Linked DNA regions of Homo sapiens. The protein of the gene in region 3 purifies or fractionates together with the protein of the main gene of each other region. This does not show direct contact. Each region holds a gene or a part of one and is shown on either strand. Other genes may lie near its edges.

Region 1 (3,500 bases), on a different chromosome or scaffold from region 3:
GTAAAATGTAGGTGGGCACAGTGGCTCATGCCTGTAATCCCAGTAGTTTGGGAGGCCAAGGTGGGAGGATCACCTGAGATCAGGAGTTTGAGACCGGCCTAGTCAGCATGGTGAAACCCCATCTTTAATAAAAATTCAAAAATTAGCCAGGCATTGTGGCATGTGCTTGTAGTCCCAGTTACTCAGGAGGCTGAGACATGAGAATCACTTGAACCCAGGAGGCGGAGGTTGCAGTGAGCTGAGATCATAACACTGCACTCCAGCCTGGGGGACAGAGTAAGACTCCATCACAAAAACAAAAACAAACAAAAAAAACCAACGTAAGATGTATTATACATGTAAAATATACACCAAATTTTTGAATACTTACTACAAAAAAAGGATGTAAACTTTTTATAATTTCCATACTGATTTTTTTTTTTTGAGATGGAGTTTTGCTCTTGTCACTCCGGCTGGAGTGCAATGGCACGATCTCAGCTCACTGCAACTTCTGCCTCCCGAGTTCAAGCAATTCTCCTGCCTCAGCCTCCCAAGTAGCTAGGACTACAGATGCCCGCCACCACACCCGGTTAATTTTTGTATTTTTAGTAGACACGGGGTTTTACCATGTTGGCCAGGCTGGTCTCGAACTCCTGACCTCAGGTGATCCACCCACCTCGGCCTCCCAAAGTGCTGAGATTACAGGCGTGAGCCACCACGCCTGGCCTCATACTGATTTTTATGGTGACTTCTTTATCGTGGTAAAATATATATAACATAACATTTACCATTTTAGCCTTTTTTTTTTTGGAGACAAGGTCTGGCTCTATCGCAAAGGCTGGAGTGCAGTGGCGCGATCTTGGCTCACTGCAACCTCCACCTCCTGAGCTCAAGCCATCCTCCCATCTTAGCCTCCCAAGTAGCTGGGACTACAGGTAGTCCCCACGATGCCTGGGTAATTTTTTTTTTGTATTATTTTTGTAGAGATGGGGTTTCACAATGTTGCCCGGGCTGGTCTCAGATTCGTGAGCTCAAGCGATCCCCTAGACTCGGCCTCCCAAAGTGCTGGGATTACAGGCCTGAGCCACCACGCCTGGCCCATTTTAGCCATTTTTAAGTGTACAATTCAATGACAATAAGTACATTCACACTGCTGTGCAACCATCACCATCACCCATTTCCAGAACAACTTCATCCTTGCAAATAGAAACTGTAATTCAACAAGAATTCCCATTCTCTTCTAACCCCTGATAAGCCCTATTATACCTTCTATCACTATGAATTCCATATTGATTTTTTAATATTTATGTTGAAATAATGCTTGGAATATACTGGGTTCAATATAGTCATGTGCTGTATAACAATGTTTCGGTCAACAACAGATGACACATACAATAGTTCTACAAAATTATAAGATTACAATGGTGCAGAAAAATTCCTATTGCCTAGTGACATCATAGCCATCCTAACCGTCCTAACGTTGCTGCACAATGCGTTACTCACAAATGTGTGTAATTATGCTGGAGTTAACGAACCTACAGCACAGCCAGTCGTATAAAAGTATAGCACATGCAATTATGTATAGCACATACCTGATAACGACAATAAACGACTATGTTACTGGTTTATTTATTTACCATATTTTTTATTTTACGGTGTACTCCTTCTACTTATAAAAAAAATTAACTGTAAAGCAACCTCAGGCAGCTCCTTCCGAAGTTATTCCAGAAGGCATTGTTATCATAGATACAGCTCCATGCCTGTTATTGCCCCTGAAGACTTTCCAGTGGGACAAGATGTGGAGGTGGAAGACAGTGATATTGATGATCCTGACTCTGTGTATGTCTAAGCTAACATGAATGTATGTGTTTGTGTCTTAGTTTTTAACAAAAAAGTTTAAAAAGGTAAAAAAAAAAAAATTTTAAGTTGAAAAGAGCTTATAAAGAGATAAACATTTTTATACAGCTGTACAACATATTTGTGTCTTAAGCTGAGTGTTATTACAAGTCAAAAAGTTAAAACAATTAAAAAGTTTATAAAATAAAAAAGTTATAGTAAACTAAGGTTAACTTATTATTCCAAAAAAATTTTAAATAATTTGAGTGTAGCCTAAATACACACGTGTTTATAAGATCTAAAGTAGTGTACAGTCACGTCCTAAGCCTTCACATTCACCCACCACTCACTCACAGGTTCACCCAGAGCAACTTCCAGTCCTGCAAGCTCCATGCATGGTAGATACCCTACATAAGTGTAACACTATTTATCTTTTCTTGAGACGGAGTCTCACTCTGTTGCCCAGGCTGGTGTGCAGTGGCGTGATCTCGGCTCACTGCAAACTCTGCCTCCCAAGTTCAAGCGATTCTCCTGCCTCAGCCTCCTGAGTAGCCGGGGCTACAGGCGTGTGCCACCACACAAGACTATTTTTTAAATTTTTAGTAGAGACGGGGTTTCACCATGTTGGCCAGGCTGGTCTCGAACTCCTGACCTCAGGTGATCTGCCCGCCTCAGCCTCCCAAAGTACTGGGATTATAGGCGTGAGCCTCCATGCCCGGCCCACTGTTTAGCTTTTATACCACATTTTTACTGTACTTTTATGTTTAGGTATGTTTAGATACACAAATACTTACCACTGTGTTACAACTGCCTACAGGACTCAGTACAATAACATGCCATATAGGTCTATAGCCTAGGAGTAATAAGCTATACCATACAGCCTAGGTGTGTAGTCAGCTATTCCATCTAGGTTCGTGTAAGTGTGCTCTATCGTGTTCACAAAATGACACATTTCACAGAACAGATCCTCATTAAGTGATGCCATTACTACAGTTCACCTTGTTTCTTTTTATATCTTTAATGTGGCTACTAGAAAATTTTAAATTGGGGCTCACATTCTACTTCTAATGGACACTACTGTGCTAAAATATAATGTGCAAGTAAGGAAATAGAGATGATGCTGGAATGAGTAGATACAGGACAAGTCATGAGGGGCCATCATTATCCTACAGGACACTGGAGAGCAAATAACAGACTTATAAGGAGAGTGACAGGATGAGACCACCATGGTACTAATGTGGGTGCTAGCCTGGAGGAGAGCAAGGCCGTAGGCAGAGAGACCTGTTAGAAGCTCATAAAGCAGAGCGGAGAGGCAAAGAATACTCGAATTATGGCAGAGGAATGTAGAATGAAAAAGAACCACAGCTCCTGAACAGAATGACTGCATCACAACCACCTGGAAAAACAACAAAGTCATCAACCAACTTTTAGAAATTATATGGTAATTCAGAAAGTCTGATGAGTATAAAATCAATAGCTTTCCAAACCTATTATAAAAATGTGAAAAAAGAAATCTCATTCATAATAGCAATATACCTGTATACTATTTTAAAACTACATAAAAAAACCACATAATCACATACACAAGTCTAGGAAAGAATTCAACAAGAAATGTGTCAGATCAATACAAAGAGGAACAGAAAACTTTAGTGAAGATCTAGAAGAAGACCAGAAGAGTGGAGATG
Region 2 (3,500 bases), on a different chromosome or scaffold from region 3:
GTGATTAAGTGAGCTTAACAGTGCCTGTTACATAATAAGCACTCAATAAATGGGAGGAATTTTCCTATTACCTGAATTGGGTCTAGGTTCACACTGTGGCTCGTCATTAAGGAGATATGTGGCCTTGGGCAAGTTACTAAAGCTTTCTAAGCTATAGTTTTCCTCATCTATAAATCAGGTCCTAATAATACTTATCTTACAGTGTTTTTGTGAGGTTCAGATGAGATACCAGCTAGAAAAGTACCTGGAATGCAGTGAGTGTTCAATTAGTGATAGCTATTAATTATAATCTGTGCTAAAGATTTCTGGACTTGTATTCCTATGTACTGCTTAGGAGCTGTGGTCCTTAGACACATGGCCCTGTCTGGCTGAGCTTCAAATAAAGAACCCCGCTAAGAAAGCTCACCATGCTGAAGGCAGTTATGGTGAGGGTAAATACACTTGGGTACCAAGAGCACTCTGGAAATATGCAGTGGGTGATTAAATATGCCAGTGTCCTATTTCTTAATTTACATTATGACACCTGTCATCAGAAACACTTTTTAAATTTACATTACACAAAATGAATCTAGTCCTTCTTCACCACGCCAAAGTTAGGATTTGCTATCTATCCCCAAGGATGATATTCCAGGCTTGTTCCCAATATGTCTTATTTTTTTGCTTATCTTTTCTCATGTAATGTAGAAAGTAGCCTCCTCTTCTCAGAGGGTAAATACAAGGGTCAATCCCTGATTTACTCTAGGTTCTTGGTGGAGAACATACATACTGGATAGAGAAGAAACCCCTTCTCACCTTCTTGCCCTCAATAACCATGAAGATGCATCCTACCACCGTCAGGGCAATCATTAGATAGCTGATCTTCACTCGCATCTTGTTCTTTGCAGCATCAAGCATCTCCAACCTAGTAATACAATGAGATCATGAGAGAAAGTTATTAACTTTTCCCTTTCTGAAGTTGCTCAGGATAAAAGGCTGTGTATAAATTCAAAATGTAGTAGTGTCTATAAATATAAATAGGGAGACCTAGAGATCTCTTTAAAAAGGGCCTAGAGATCTCATAGGACTTTGGGGAGGATGAGGCATTTTTCGTAACTCATTTATGTATAAAATACAGGATAGCACACAATTAAGTACAAAAGAAGAAAACAAAAAGAGAAGTCAAGAACAAAGCCAAAAAAAAAAAATGGGCAAGGCATATTAATCTACACTTGCTATGGTGGACCCCAATTTTGGCTCTCAGGTTTCCAAGCAGCCTATAAATGCTAGAAGTGAAACAGTCATTTCTCCCTGAGGTTCTTAAGAAGACATTATGTGATGTAGTCATCGTCTGAAAACATCTCGACAACAGATACTACAATAAGCTTCATATGTTTCAACACAAAGCACAATTCAGAATGATCAAACATTGGAGAAAGTTAACCAATGTGCTCCATATACCCAGCTTTTTGCTCTCTGTCTTGAACCCAGAATAGATTTGAGAATATCTAAAATAGTAGGAAGATCCTTTAAGCAATGCTCCTCAATATTTATCTTTTTAAACAAATGTTTTGCTAAAATTGAGTGACAGTGAACTTGATATTGTGGTCTTTGGCAAGTGCCAAAGTGCAGCTCTTCTAACCTATCTACTGAATACAGACCCATGTGCCTTAAAAAAAAGTTGATGGTTGGTTCATCATTCTTGTGTGAAACCTAAGAGGCTTAATATAGAAGAGTCTAAAGGCCAATCTACCTTGGTGATTTTGCAAGTAGGCAGTGAGTCATGGTTCTATTTTTAATTTACTTTATTTAAAGAGATGGGGTCTCACCATGTTGCTGACTCAAAATCTTAGACTGAAGCGATCCTCCTGCCTCAGCCTCCTGAGCAGCCGGGGCTATAGGCATGCATTGCCACACCTGGTGGTCACGATTCTGTTACCTCGGTGTCTGGCAGAACCTCAAGGCAGGGGATGTGGAGCCCTTATGGGGCCCAGGATTAACTTATGGCCTTCTCAGTAGATGTGTAAATAGGAAGTGATTATCTCTAGATGATGGGATTGAAGTGCTTTCTTTCCCCTGAGATATTTAACATATATTACTTTTAAAATTGGGGAGGGGAGTACTTTAAAAATGCTTGGAAGGAGGCAAAGAGTCTGGGATGTTGCAGGTGGAAGGAGGAAGATGATGAAGCCATGTACAATGTGATGTAGGAGCTGGGACCTGTGAGGCAGCATGTGGACGGGGTTCTCCAGGCACTTAAGCTGGGCCTGCAGGCTGGCAGGAACCCAAGACAACTGCTAAGGACTGTCAAATTGGTCAGTTAGGAGCACCTGAGATTCCACTAACCACAAACTGACTTCCCATGTTGACGGTATTTTATGGGATTTGAAGTGCCATGATCCTCATGAAAAGTAATCCATTCCATAGGGAGTAATAGGAATGGGCAAGTTAAGCAGTGCCTGTTCAGAACTACCAGCACAAGGACAAATGGCTGCCCAGGCCCAGAAAAGACCCTTCCAGAGTGATTCGTGAGGTAGTATTTTGGGCCTGAGGGGATCTTGGAACCAACTATTAGGCAGACTGAGGAAGGTGTTCTATAGCAAAGCCTATACAGCATCTGTTAAGGCCATGGGTGTCTACCAGCTTATTTTCTGCTGGTATAGGAAGAATTAGGGCATAGGCAAGAACCTGATGTCACTGTTATTTCCAGTATTCTCTTATTTCCCAGAAGAATACATGACTTGAGCTAAGAAAAACCAGGGCTTTCCTGCTGAAATAATTCTAGTTAAAGTAATGTGCTATCAATTTGACTGGCAGAAGCAGAAAAGCTCTATTAAAGCTGTTGTAAACAGAAAGTAAATACTACATATTTCCCTGGGAAAGAAATCCTGAATGAGCTCAGATCTTTTTCAATCATGACTTGAAACCAGAGACCAGAAGATCCAGGAATAGTTTCTTGCTGACAGGGAACTTCCACGAGCTTTGTCTGAAGTCCCTGTCCCTGAATAGGATGATGCCTCACAGAGGAGATGACATCTATTTCTCAGAATCTCTTTTTAGCCAAGATGCCAGCCAGTCAGGGTCTTTAACATGAGGCTAGGGCACTGGTTCTCAACCAGGGGAGATTCCCACCCCGCTCGTGCCCCTTGGACATTTGGCAGTGTCTGGAGACATTTCTGGTTGTCAGCACTGCCGCAATGCTACGGGCATGTAGGGGGCAGAAGCCGGGGATGCTGCCAAACATCTTCCAACAAATAGGACACCCCCCTGCCACAAAGCATTATCAAGCCCCAAATATCAATAGTACTGAGTTGAGAAACTGGGTTGGAGGAACCTGCACTCATCATCTACAAACTCTGAAAAAGTTCCATGATCCCAGCCAAGATCCCTTCCCTTAGGTTTAAGGAAGTTGGTGACAGGAAGCACTCTTTCCTGAATTCCAGAATATTGCAATTAAATACTTTTACACCTAAGGTTGAGTACTTAAGTGGATTTGGGGGAATACAGTCATTGTCAATGGTACT
Region 3 (3,500 bases):
TACAGTTAATTTAATGGAGTTATGATTTAACACTGCATCTTCATGTTTGTTTACATTTCTCTTGACTATGAATGGTGCTATGTATGGTCTGTAAGTGCTTCCATGCATATGTTGATAAATTTTATTTCTTTATAATAGATTTGTATATATATAGTAAATGATACAATAGATTAGTACCTATATATATTTCATGCATTCATGACATACCTAATTTTTCTTAATTTTAAAAAATATTTCCAGGCTATAAGGTTCATCTGCAAATTTTTTTCAGATTGCCACAAATCTCAAAAAAATTTCCAATATATTGACAAAAATTCTTACATAAGCGGACCCATAACATTCAAATTCACGTTGTTCAAAGGCCAACTGTACTTATTTTTTCCCCTGTGACAGGAAAAATAATAGTTAGCTCCCAAAAGATGTCCATACCCTCATCCCATAACCTGTGAATATGTTGTCTTTCATGCAAGAGGGAATTAAGGCTGTAAGTGGCACTGAGATTTCTTATCAGCTCACATTAAAATAGGGAGATTATCCAAGATTACCTGGATGGGCCCAAGGTAATCACAGCATCCTTAAATGTGGGAGGAGGCAGATGAGTAAGTGTCAGAGTGATACAGTATGAGAAAGACTTGACTGGCCACTGCTGGCTCTGAAGATGGAAGGGGGCCACAAGCCGGGGAATGTGGGCAGCCTCTAGAAGCTGGAGACTCCAGAGGGAATACAGCCCTGGTGACACTTGTATTTTAGCTCAGTGTGATCTATTGTAGACTTCTGACCTCTAGAACTATAAGATAATAAATGTGTCTGTGTTTTAAGCTATTAAGTTTTGTGGTAATTTGTTACACCAGCCACAGGAAACTAATACATCCCCTAAAGAAGGAAAATAGCTTATATTATATTTCTAACTTAGAAATGCATTTCTAGGACTATATTAGTTGCCAAAACACTATTTTTATTGGACTTCAATGTCTTTTCCATATCCAGATCATCCTTTATATGATGATAAAGAATAGGATTTAAATGAAGAAGGCGTCTTTGAGAGGGGACATATTCTATGATTAACTGTCAAGAGCACAGATTCTGGGACATGTCATTTAAGTATCCTGAACTATGCAAATTTCTTTACACTCTATAAAGCCCCTGCTTATTAGGGAAGATGTGCTCAGAATGTACACAATGTCATCTGCTCTAACGGGGGAGTAAAACAATGGGATTTTTAAAAGTCAGAGACATTTTAATTCCCTATTCAAGATTCCTAAAAGAGACTGCTACATCTAAAGCTGAGTTTAATTTTATTTAATTAATGTTAATTGTGTCCTAAGATAATCACATACTGAGAATAAAATAAGAGTTACAAAAAACGCAACTAAAAGGTATTCACCCCAATCAAATGGAGCTCAATGTTTTAGAAAACAACTTAGCTTTTTCTAAGTAACCTTTTTGGCTCTTAATTGAATAAAATGTTAATTGCTATTTTTAGTTATTAATGGAGTTCCCCAAATGAACAATAAATGTCAGTTTGGGTGAATATTACATAAACCTACGAGTCACCGTAAAGTGTTTTTGAGCCTGGGCTTTCCAAGTCTTCTGGTATGCAGGGCCTGGGGCTGCTTGGCAGGAGTCCCCAATTCTGAGCTCTGTGCTGTCCAGGCAGCAGTTAAGTGAAACTGGTGGCTTGGGGAACAACCATAGGTGGCCTGGAGTTCTCACAAGCACCAGGTGGCTGAGCATGTGCTACCTGGAGAACAGATGTGCCTTACCTGAATGACAGGTGATGAATGGGTAACCAAATGGGTTGTGTCCCTGAGATTTTCAAGGAATTAGAGAACACCTCTAGCTCTTTAGACACATTTATCTTTCTGGTCTGTAAACCCAGATTCTCTGTGCAGTAGACTCTGGGCATTCATGCACTGTCACTGGTCATTTTAACTCTTCACGTCTGATCATGAGGGTCCAAGGAATGCAACGGCAGTTCCTTGATGCTCACGACAGGCCAGGAACCACTCTGCATGATGAGAGTGCCTCATTTGATGTCTACAACATGTCATAAGAAGGCTCAATTAGTGTTGTATTTTATAGAAAGGCAATTGAGCCACAGAGGGGTCACATAGCGAACAGCAGAGCAGGAATTTCAATTCAGCCAGACTGGACCCAGTGTTCATGCTCTTAACCAGACCAGAGACCACCTCTCCACTACTGTTATTACATCATGTGCTATTGTTAGACCATAAAAATATAATATTACTATCATATATTGGATAACTGTGCCAAGTCTTTCATCTAGTGCTCACTGATCCTAGTAACAACCCCATACTTGAGGCACTATTTGCCATTTTTCAGATGAGGGATTTGAAGCTCAGAGATTCAGGGACATGCACACATCACACAGCTAACAAGCGGTGCATCCAGGACTCTAACCTAGGATTGTTGGTTTCCAAAGCCTATGCTTTAAAGCATAATTTCTCATTTTGTTGCATTGTAAGTTAGAAGGCAGCTGTGCAGGAGCAAACCAGTTAACTCAGCCTGAAGAGGAATGCCCAGCATCTGCAACTCACTGTGGCTTTGTTGTCGTTTGATTATTTCTCACCAGCGTTAAACTAACCCTCAAGAAGTAATAAACCTTGCTTCTTTGGGAAAATAGCTCTAGAAAGAGATCTAACAGCCAATGCAAATCTGGAAGAATCATTTAAATTTATCACTTCTTACACATGAATATACTTTGTGAGGGCTATTCATGGAACTGATATCCTGGGTTGTATCTTTTATAAATTTCAAGGCTCTGCTTCTGGGGCAACAACAGGTTCCATCTTGCATGACAATTCTGATCAGTTGCTAGCAGCCACCTAGAACACTGCGTTGAGAAGGACTTAGAGGTTCAGCCTCAGCTTATTCAGAAAGGCTGTTGGGGTCAGTTAGCACCTTTCCCATGGGCTCTGGAAGAAAAAAATGACTGCACATGTGTGGCATATTTTAATCACTGTTGGTGGCACTTATTAAGATAAGAGCAAAATAGACGTTCCATAATATTCACATAACAATTTAAAAAGTTATTTTTGGGGAACAAAATCATTATTTATATTTGCTGATTCTGGTTTTTTCCTTCAACTCTAAAAAGCCAGTCCTTTAAAAAAACATAGTTCAGTCCTAATGAAACTACTTGGATACTGTATCAGTTCGCTAGGGCTGCCACAAGCAAATACCACAGACTGAGTGGCTTAAACAACAGAAGTGTATTTTCTCACAGTTCTGGAGGCTGAAAGTCCAAAATTAAGGTGTGGCCAGGCTTGGTTTCTCCTGAGGCCTCTTTTCTTGGCTCCTAGGTGGCCACCTTCTTCTTGTGTCCTCACACGTCATTTTCTCATCCCTAGTGATATGGTTTGGCTGCATCCCCACCCAAATCTCATCTTGAATTATAGTTCCCATAATCCCCATGTGTCATGGGAGGGACCAGGTGGAGATAACTGAATCATGGGGGTGGTTTTCCCCATCCTGTTCTC
Region 4 (2,995 bases), on a different chromosome or scaffold from region 3:
ACTTGGAGGAAAAAGAGTCGGCTGCCTTCTCTGTGCTCAAGGGAGTGTCCACAATAGGCATTTTAGAGCTCCAGACCACCCAAGGACCACATCAAAGCTTAAAGTTCACCACAGTGAGCACGCTGGGACCTGGTGTAATCTTTCAAGTGCCAGCAGAAGGGAGGCTGGAGAAATGCAAAGGCCTGCTGGCCTGGAGATACCATTCATCCTCTCCTCAAGAGTAGAAGCCAGTTCTTGTAAAGAAACTAAAGTCCCTAGGTGGGAACATCATCAGCTGAGACAGCCTCCCCATCATCTCCTGAGAAGGATAAAAACTAAGGGCTCATAACCCCAAGGGATTGTGGCCTGCACTGTGTGTCTGCTCCTTAGCATTCTGGGCCCTCCTTGCAGGGTGAGGACAAAGGGGACCCGAGGCCATCACCAAAGGGTGGTTCTCAGGGTCCTGCTGTCACCCATTAAAGGCTGGTTCTAAGGAACAGTGTGACAAGTACAGCAAAGGCTAACAGTACACAGATTGTGACATTTTATATTCTTTGTTAAATGGTTCCTGGTACATGTTTTAAGTGCCTCTGCTTCTAGTTTAAATGAATGACCCAGACAGAGCTTTCAAGCTGTTTCTTAGAGAATGTGTGGTTGAGCAGAAATGGCTATCCACACCTGACACAGGTCCCCACCCACCTCACACCCTGGAGGCAGCAGCATAAGCCCCAGTTTCCACTATGGTGTCTCCTCAATGACCAGAATACCCGCCAGTTCCAGGGGTCAGCAATTCCATTCTCTCTCTCCGGCTCAGTTCAGAAGCTGTGATGGTCCTGTTAGAGAGCACTGCCTGCAGGTCAAAACCTGGAAGAGGCTCTCCCAGGCCAGGCGACAACCCTTCAGGTGCAGACGGGGAACAAAAGGCTTAACCTGTGATAATCCCAACACCTTCTGAAAAAAGAGTAACAGTCATCCAGCAACGGGCCATGGGTAGGGGCGGGCGGTAGCAGGGGACACTGTCCCCTGCCTCAGCATGTCCTGTCCAGAGGGTGGGCACAGATATAGGCTCGCTTCTCAAGGATCTGCTGGGACACTTTCTTAATCTGCTCATCTAGGTTTTCTGGAGCATCTGGGAAGGAAAAGGAGAGATGGTGGGTGATCTTTCTGCACCGTGATAAGACAAACATGGCTGAAGTGGGGGCATTTTTCCACAAAGTCAGCCCACCCACCATGAAGCAGCCCTAAGGGTGAACCCCTCCTCCAGACCCCCAGCAAGTGATTCAGGGCTGCAGGGAGAGAAAGGGGTACAGCTTCATTCTCAGTTACAAAGGACTCATCCTGCTCATCTCTAACCCCCAGATCTCATGGGGTGGAGCCGGCACTTGCTCCGTAAACAGCCCATCTGTGATTCCAGCCCACTGGAGGAGAAACCATTTCAGCACCCTCCACAGCACATAACCTGTCAGCACTGGGGGGGTGTCTGGGCTACCCCCAGGGCTAGGACCTGCAAAAAATCATATGCCACTCTCAGCAAGTGCCACAGTGCTGGCGCCTACACCCATCACTTGGCAACACGACTGGGCTTTGTGGGGACACTGATCCAGAACCTCAGGTCAACAGGACTGTGAGGGTCAGAGGTAGACTGAGCTGGGCATTCCTAGATATGGTCGAGTGGCTATAGAAGAGGAAGAGCACTGCAGACAGAGCGGGGAGCACGAGCAAAGCCCTCTGTTCTCTAGGCCAAGGCCTGAGACCTCTGCAGGGCACTGCAGGGTCATTTTGGATGGAGTACAGTGGGTAAAGGGGCAGGTAAAATGCTGTCTCCAGAATCAGGTACAACCAGATGCTCCTCCCTTCGTGAGCCTTCCCCGGGCAGCTTCAAGAATACAGCCAGGGCTGGGCACAGTGGCTCATGCCTGTAATCCCAGCACTTTGGGAGGCCAAGGTGGGCGGATCACCTGAGGTCAGGGGTTGGAGACCAGCTTGGCCAACATGGTGAAACCCTGTTTGTTTCTACTAAAAATACAAATATTAGCTGGGCATGGTGGTGCGTGCCTATAATCCCAACTACTCAGGAGGCTGAGGCACAGGAGTTGCTTGAACCCAGGAGGTGGAGGTTGCAGTGAGCCAAGATCATGCCACTGCACTCCAGCCAGCCTGGGTGACAAAGTGAGACTATGTCTCCAAAAAAAAGAGAATACAGCCAGGCATGCTGGGCAGATGCCAGGGGTCCTGCGCAAAGGGCTCTGCACTTGCTCAATCTAAAATTGCCTTGGCAGGCCCGGTGCGGTGGCTCATGCCTGTAATCCCAGCATTTTTGGAGGCTGAGGCAGGCAGATCACCTGAGGTCAGGAGTTGGAGACCAGCCTGGCTAACATGGTGAAACCCTGTTTCTACTAAAAATACAAAAAATTAGCCGGGCGTGGTGGCGTGCGCCTGTAATCCCAGCTACTCGGGAGGCTGGGGCAGAAGAATCGCTTGAACCCAAGAGGTGGAGTTTGCAGGGAGCCAAGACTGCGCCATTACACTCCAGCTTGGGCAACAAGAGCGAAACTCCATCTCGAAATAAATACATACATACATACATACACACACACACATATATACATACAACTGCCTTGGTGAATGGGGCAGGTATGCACCTACAGTGCCTGGTGGGCACTGCTGCAGCTAAGCCCAGGCCTACCCAGGCCCTCGCTCAAGGCAGAGGTCTGTGAGTAGCTAGCAGGCTCTGGGAGCTTGACAGGGTCCAGAAACAGCTCACCATCAATAGGGGCCTAGAAGTGGGCCCTTCCTTCCCTCCCCCAAGACATGCCACTCACACTTGTCCAGCTGAGAGAGGCTGAAGAGATTCTGCAAGTAAGCTTCCACGCAGAAGGTGTTGGCCAAGAGAACCTGCCAGAACCGAGGACAGAAAAGATATGCCCAAATTCCTGGAATCAGACCTCTGAGCTTCAAAAACCCAGCCTATCAGCCAAACTGGGTAGCATGGCAGGGGTCACAAGGCCTGGCACAG

The links. The genes of interacting proteins can lie anywhere in the genome.
Region 1: the proteins of ASPH (region 3) and EXD2 purify together in Homo sapiens (co-immunoprecipitation; 3 studies listed by BioGRID and IntAct, with this or other methods). This does not show direct contact.
Region 2: the proteins of ASPH (region 3) and FAM162A purify together in Homo sapiens (co-immunoprecipitation; 3 studies listed by BioGRID and IntAct, with this or other methods). This does not show direct contact.
Region 4: the proteins of ASPH (region 3) and ACAD9 purify together in Homo sapiens (co-immunoprecipitation; 3 studies listed by BioGRID and IntAct, with this or other methods). This does not show direct contact.

What each region holds. Positions count from the first base shown.
Region 1 is NC_000014.9:69,197,998-69,201,497, reverse strand, and holds part of EXD2 (exonuclease 3'-5' domain-containing protein 2), read right to left. Parts: intron 1-3,500. UniProt on the Homo sapiens protein: Exonuclease that has both 3'-5' exoribonuclease and exodeoxyribonuclease activities, depending on the divalent metal cation used as cofactor.
Region 2 is NC_000003.12:122,404,682-122,408,181, reverse strand, and holds part of FAM162A (protein FAM162A), read right to left. Parts: intron 902-3,500; coding exon 793-901; intron 1-792. UniProt on the Homo sapiens protein: Proposed to be involved in regulation of apoptosis; the exact mechanism may differ between cell types/tissues.
Region 3 is NC_000008.11:61,519,093-61,522,592, forward strand, and holds part of ASPH (aspartyl/asparaginyl beta-hydroxylase), read right to left. Parts: intron 1-3,500.
Region 4 is NC_000003.12:128,910,620-128,913,614, reverse strand, and holds the end of ACAD9 (complex I assembly factor ACAD9, mitochondrial), read right to left. Parts: intron 2,875-2,995; coding exon 2,802-2,874; intron 1,109-2,801; coding exon 1,008-1,108; 3' UTR 501-1,007; downstream 1-500. UniProt on the Homo sapiens protein: As part of the MCIA complex, primarily participates in the assembly of the mitochondrial complex I and therefore plays a role in oxidative phosphorylation.